2 separate regions of the Homo sapiens genome follow, and region 1 is linked to region 2. The links come from fine-mapping of genetic effects on gene expression. A gene starts in region 2. The other region holds a variant in brackets. All regions are shown on one strand. Distances are from middle to middle. Region 1 overlaps KSR2 (kinase suppressor of ras 2). Region 2 holds the start of KSR2 (kinase suppressor of ras 2).

Region 1 (2,912 bases), 400 kb before region 2:
TGATGGGCAGAATTGGGACAATTCATCCCTGCATGCCCACAAGAAGACACTGTGTTCCTCCTCTGTGCCAAGGGCTATGCTAGGCACTGGAGGTATAATAATTAAATAAGACAAGAATTCTTTCTTTAAAGATCTTGCAGTCTAGCAAGAAATTTACTGTCCAAGAATGTAAACCCATCTCTTGTGGCTTCAAGCATGAACATCTCTCTACTCATCCTACTGCGCCCAAATTGCCTCTTATAAATGAGCCCAGCTGGATTTGAACCAGATTTGGGGAGCTTATATTGTCAAGAACCGCTCTCTCTGCAGAGGTCCCTACTGAGATCTACTCAAGCAACAAGTATTTACTGAGCATTTACCATGTGTGCCAAGCACTGTGCTGGCGCTAGAGGTTTAAACAGTGAACCGTCCAGAAATGAGATGGCCCTGCCTTCAAAGAGTTTAAAGTCTGGTCAGGAAGACAGGCAGGTAAATAGACAAATAAAACATAGTAGTATGTAATATGGTGTGACAGAAAAGGGCAGAAGGTGGCACTTCAGATTTGAGGGGAGTCAGGGAAGGCTTCCCGGAGGGAAGTGGTGGCTGAGCTGAGCTTGAAAGATAAATGAGAGCCAGCAGAGGTGTGCAAGAAAGATCCAGGCAGTAGCAATGGGGTGCAAAGACATGTCAATGAGTGGGCACATGACCTGCCACGGGGATTGATGGCTCGGAGAAGCTGCAGCTCTGGGCATGAAGAGGGGAGAGATGCGAGGGGACAGAGGAGTAAGCAAACATGGCGCGCGGTCTCGTCATGAAGTTGGATTTCGCCGAGAGCAAGGGGGAGCTAATGAAGGATTTTAAACAGGGAGGGGAATGCTGGCTAAGCATTTTGAAAAGACACCCTCTGGCAGCAGAAACTTGCAATTAAAGGGCAGCAAAGTTCCCCTCTCATTATCTTCCCTACTCTCTGTACCTGCTTTCCTTTTCCAGGTCACTGCATTAAGTGTTCCTGAAGGCTTCTCGCAAAAAAAAAAAAAAAAATCACGAAACCGAATCCTTGCCCCCTTTGCAGCAGGGCTTGGTTCACTGCATACCCCAACTGAGCATTCTGGTCTCATGTGAGTTCCCCTGTGGTCTCTTGTTTGAGCCAATGCTTCTAGAAATGACTCCGTACGCTCCAAGTGCAGGATATCAAAAC[C/A]AAAAGTGCAGGTTCACTGCATACCAACTGAGCATTCTGGTCTCATGTGAGTTCCCCTGTGGTCTCTTGTTTGAGCCAGTGCTTCTAGAAATGCCTCCGTATGCTCCAAGTACAGGATATCAAAACACCCTTTCCCTCACTGCTAACAACTCAGTGGGGTCTAGCTCTTTAGCCTATAGCTAACCACAATACAAATGAGCAAAGGGCGGTAGGAAGTATTGACATATAAATCAGACCTCGGGTTCCAAGGACATCATGAAAAATCACCAGGAACCCCCAGCACTTTTCTCTCCATAAAAGGACACTGTAAGGGAAGCTGTAAATGTATTACTTGCTGTACCCTCCCTCCTCTCCTCTCCCTCGCCTTCCCTGAAAAAGAAGAAAGCGACTGTAGAGTCTTCTTGGCTCTCTGAACCCAGAGGTGTTCATCAGAACACAAAGATCCATTTGTCATCTTTCAATTCAAGAAAGGATGATGGGAGCATGTGGCAGGCTGGGGGAGGGATGAGGAAAAGCTTTGGTCCAGGTTGGAATTGAGACCAAATTCTTATACTCTGTTCTGCTTGTTTAGTTAAAGGGCAAGCAGAGTGACATGTAGCATTTATTGCCGGCCTGCTGTGTAGCCAGCCCTTTGCCCGTGTAAAGCGGTTAAAAGTCTGGGATCGTGAATCTGAGCGATCAGTGGGTTTGAGTAACAGATCCACACACCGTGACACTTCGAGCCGGCTGTTTACTTCTGAAGGCCTCTGTTTCCTCGTCTGTAAAATGGGGGTAATAATAGACCCTACTTTCCATAGTTGTGGCAAGGATTAAATGAGATCATGCATGTAAAGTGTTTAGCAAAATGTCTGGCACCTGGGTGAGCCCCCAATACATGATAGCATCATCATAATTATCATCATCATTATCACATCTAATCCCACCTCAGCCCCCAGTAGAATTATAAGCATCCCTCAGATACAACTATAATTAGACCTAAATTTTTGCTTATCATAGGTAAAAACGCATATATAGGATGATTAACTCCCATTATAATTATTGCAAAAACTGAAGTGTTTCTATTAATAGAAAAGTAAGTTCAAGATTCAAGCTGGTGATCTCTGAAATACTTGCTCATAATTATATCCTGCCAATATCCTGCCTGTTGTACAAACTCCCAAAGCTTCCAGGAACTTCGCAGCAGCTGCGACATCAGCACTCATCATTTCCCCACTTTTTAAGGTCTGGGTAAATTAGTGCAATGGTGGCTCAAACCAGCCATGGCTTACTTCACACTTTTATCTCCTCATCACCTGTGGCTGCAGCGATTTTGCAAAAAAATTGGACATTTTTAGGTAAAATATATTTTGTTGCAAGAACATAGGAGAGCAGAATGCACAGGGCAAGAGAGAAAATCAAGATGTGCTTGGTTTTGCTGTGTTATTTGACATTTTCACTTGGATTTTGATGTGTACAAACCCAAGTGAAAAGATCCACTAACACGGCAAAAGTCAATTGAGAAGTGCATGGCTTATTTAAGTAAAAATTATTAAAGTGACTGTTTACATAAAAAGAAGTAGGTACAAGCATGTCTGGCCAGCCACTGCAGGCAGGAGGAAAGAGGACTCGTATAAAGGCCATGAAAACACCACTGAAATACACTGGAAATCTTGTGCTGGTTAACTCAGGCTTCCAAACACCATGTCTTACCTTACTAGGGGAACGAACATGGGTCTCACTCCTACAGAAGTGGGCA
Region 2 (2,912 bases):
GAGCAAAAACCACCTTTTGACCACCTGCAGAATGCGCAAGGTCACGTGGGTTCTCTGCAGCTCCTTAATGTATTACCCGGCACACAAGCCCCCGTGGCATATAAACAAATCCACAAGCGGAAAAAAGAGAGAACTCCCTCCTCAGCGAGGAAGCGAATGACAACGGTAACAGCCGCAACAATAATAATAAATAAAGAATAACAATTACTACTACTACTACCACCACCCAGCCAAGCGCAGACGACAGCAGCACAGTAAAAGGATATCCAATGCAGGCTTTGCAAGGAGAGAAATCACAGAAAAGCAAACCGTGCCCACCTTGCTTGCCCACACCACCACCCCCAGCCCCCAATAAACAGAATCAGAGGGAAAGGGGACCGTGGGGAGAAAGGAGGGGGAAAGAAGGATTGCTTTTTTTTTTTTTTTTTTTTTTTTTTTTCCCGTAGGCAACACCTACCTCCAGGGTCCGGATTTCTTTTTGTGTGAGGTCGTTGGAGGTAGCACATTTGGTCCTAAGCCCTTCCAGGTTGGAGATGCTCAAGTCTATCATGTTTTGGACCAGTTCGCACTGCTGTAAGGCTTTTTGCAAACTCAGAGGCTGCTGCTCCTCGCTTTTCGTCATGTTTTCCTCATCCATCGCTTGCTCTGCAACCCCCTTCCCCTCCTCCTCCTCCCAGAGAGAAAAAAGAGGGGGGGGAGTAGAGGTAGTCTACCCTCCGCCTCTCCAACCACTGCGACTTCTCAACAATGTCTCATGAAGAAGAAATCCAACATCTCACACAGGGTTGAGGGGGTGGGAGTGGGAGGAGGGGACAAGAGCCAAAATTTATTATTTTATTTTGGGATATCAAGCGGACTCCATTAGAATGTCTCCTCTCTCTCTGAGTCTCTGGTCCCTGAAAAGGAGAGATGCTGTTTCTCAGAAGCAAACCAGGTGATGTGATGCTGTCTGTACACTTAGGGAGGAGGAGGAGGAGGAAAAAGAAGAGGAGAAGGAGGAGAGAGAGGAGGAGGGAGAGGAGGAGGAGGGAGAGGAGGAGGAGGAGAAGGAAAATAGCGCTCACTCTTTACACACCGGCTCCTTGAAGGACAAAATTATATATTTTTGGCTGGCTTGCTTTTATGTCAAAAAAAATCTGGTTTTCCCCCCTCCCAGTTGCAGGGACACGGCATGGTCCACGGTTTGGAGTGCTTTAGCGCGTTCTCAAGGTGCTGTCTGCATTGCTCCCGCGGCTGCGGCGGCTACTGCGGCTGGCTGCTGTCTCCTCCCCGCGCTGCTGCTGCTGCTGCTGCTGCCGCCGCCGGGCTCCGGGGGTGACGGTTGCTGCAATCGCTCCTGCCTCGCTCCACACCGACATCTTGCCTGTCAATCAAAGGGCGGGGGGGAGCGAGGGAGCGCCGGAGAGGGATGGAGACCAAGCGAGGGACCTGCAGGGGAGCGGGTTGGTGGAGAGGCGCCGTGCGCGCAGCCGCCCCAGCCGGGCCCCGGCCCCGGCGCGCCAGGGACCCGTCGGAGGAGGCGGAGGAGGAGCGCGCAGACTCGCGCACCTGGCCGGGGGGCGGGATTTCTAGGGGCTGCGGAGCTCGCGTGGCAAAGTGAAATTACTACCGGGAGTGCGTGCGAGCGAGCAAGCGAGCGATCGGCGGGCGGGGGCGCGGAGACAGCGCGCGCATCGGGCCCAGCCTGCTCCCGGGGGCGGCGGGGGAGGCCGGGAGTGTGCCCGAGCCTGGAGGCTGGGCGAGGGGGCGGGGAGAGGGATTTGGTGGCGGGGAGCGGGTGGGGGCCACTACTCCTGCACCGCTCTCGCGAGACCGGGCCGGAGTGCTGCTCAGCAGGTGCGCTCCGGCTGGGAGCAGGTGTGCGCCCAACTTTAAAACCCTCGGTGCGCGCCGGAGAGGCGTCGGCGTGAACCTGGGCACATCCCGTCTGTCTTTAGCTCGGGGGTGGTGTGTGTGTGTGTGTGTGTTTGCCTTTTTTGTTCGTTTGTCCTTTGGGTGTGTGTTTGTGTGTGTGTGCCTTTTTTGTTCGTTTGTCCTTTCTTGTTACTGGGGAAAAAATAAAGCGAACCTGATGATCTTCCGTGAATTTCAGGAAGCTGCCTCCTAGACTTGGTAGCCTGGCCCGCCCTGATGGCTTTCCATTTGGCGAGGAAAAGGGCCTTTGCCTTATTCTGAGTATTCCCATGTCCTACAAGTGTCTGTGTGGCCTGACCCCAGCATACCTAACTGACGTTATATCAGCAAACGATGGCTCCACAGTTAAGATGGTTTTTACCTTTTGAAATTTTTGGAAGCCTGGTGAGGTGGCTCATGCCTGTAATCCCCAGAACTTTGGGAGGCAGTCAGGAGGCTCGCTTGAGGCCAGGAGTTTGGGACCAACCTGGGCAACAACATAGCAAGACCCTGTCGCTACTAAAAATTCAAAAATTAAAAATGTAAATAAAATGGTTGGAAAAAAATGAAAATAACATTTTGTGACACGTGAAAGTTATGTGAAATTCACATCTCAGTGTCCACAAGTAAAGTTTTATTGGAGTACCACCACCCATCTGTTTATTGTCTGTGGTTACTCCTGCGTTGTAAAGCAGAGTTGAGTAGCTGCAGCTGAGACCGGTGGTTCACAACACCTGAAAGATTTACTGTCTGGCACTTTACAGAAAAGTTTGCTGACTCTTGATTAAATCTTTGTACTCTATGTCCACAGTGCTCAGAACATGCTTCACCCTAATCCTCTCCTGGTGGGTTTCTTCTTGTCACTGTTAACTCAAATATCATCTCAGAGAGGCCTCATCTCCCTAACCACCTTATCTAATAGTATTCCCAACACACATTGCCCAACAGATGTATTTAGAATGATTAGCAAAAGGCACCTCTTTCTTTAGGTGAACAGAGCCCTGTGCTGAGGACTGAGT

Evidence for each region.
Region 1: its variant is fine-mapped to the expression of KSR2 in thyroid (GTEx, PIP above 0.99).

What each region holds. Positions count from the first base shown.
Region 1 is chr12:117,566,659-117,569,570 of GRCh38, forward strand. The region is part of intron 7 of KSR2 (kinase suppressor of ras 2); the gene reads right to left. Among named protein-coding and RNA genes, the nearest start is that of NOS1, 210 kb to the left of the region's middle. The variant C/A (reference allele first, on the strand shown) is at 1,178.
Region 2 is chr12:117,967,619-117,970,530 of GRCh38, forward strand. KSR2 (kinase suppressor of ras 2) reads right to left here and starts at 1,372. Exons shown (of 20, transcript NM_173598.6): 1 at 458-1,372. The coding sequence starts at 637. RefSeq lists silencers at 1,385-1,654, 1,665-1,774.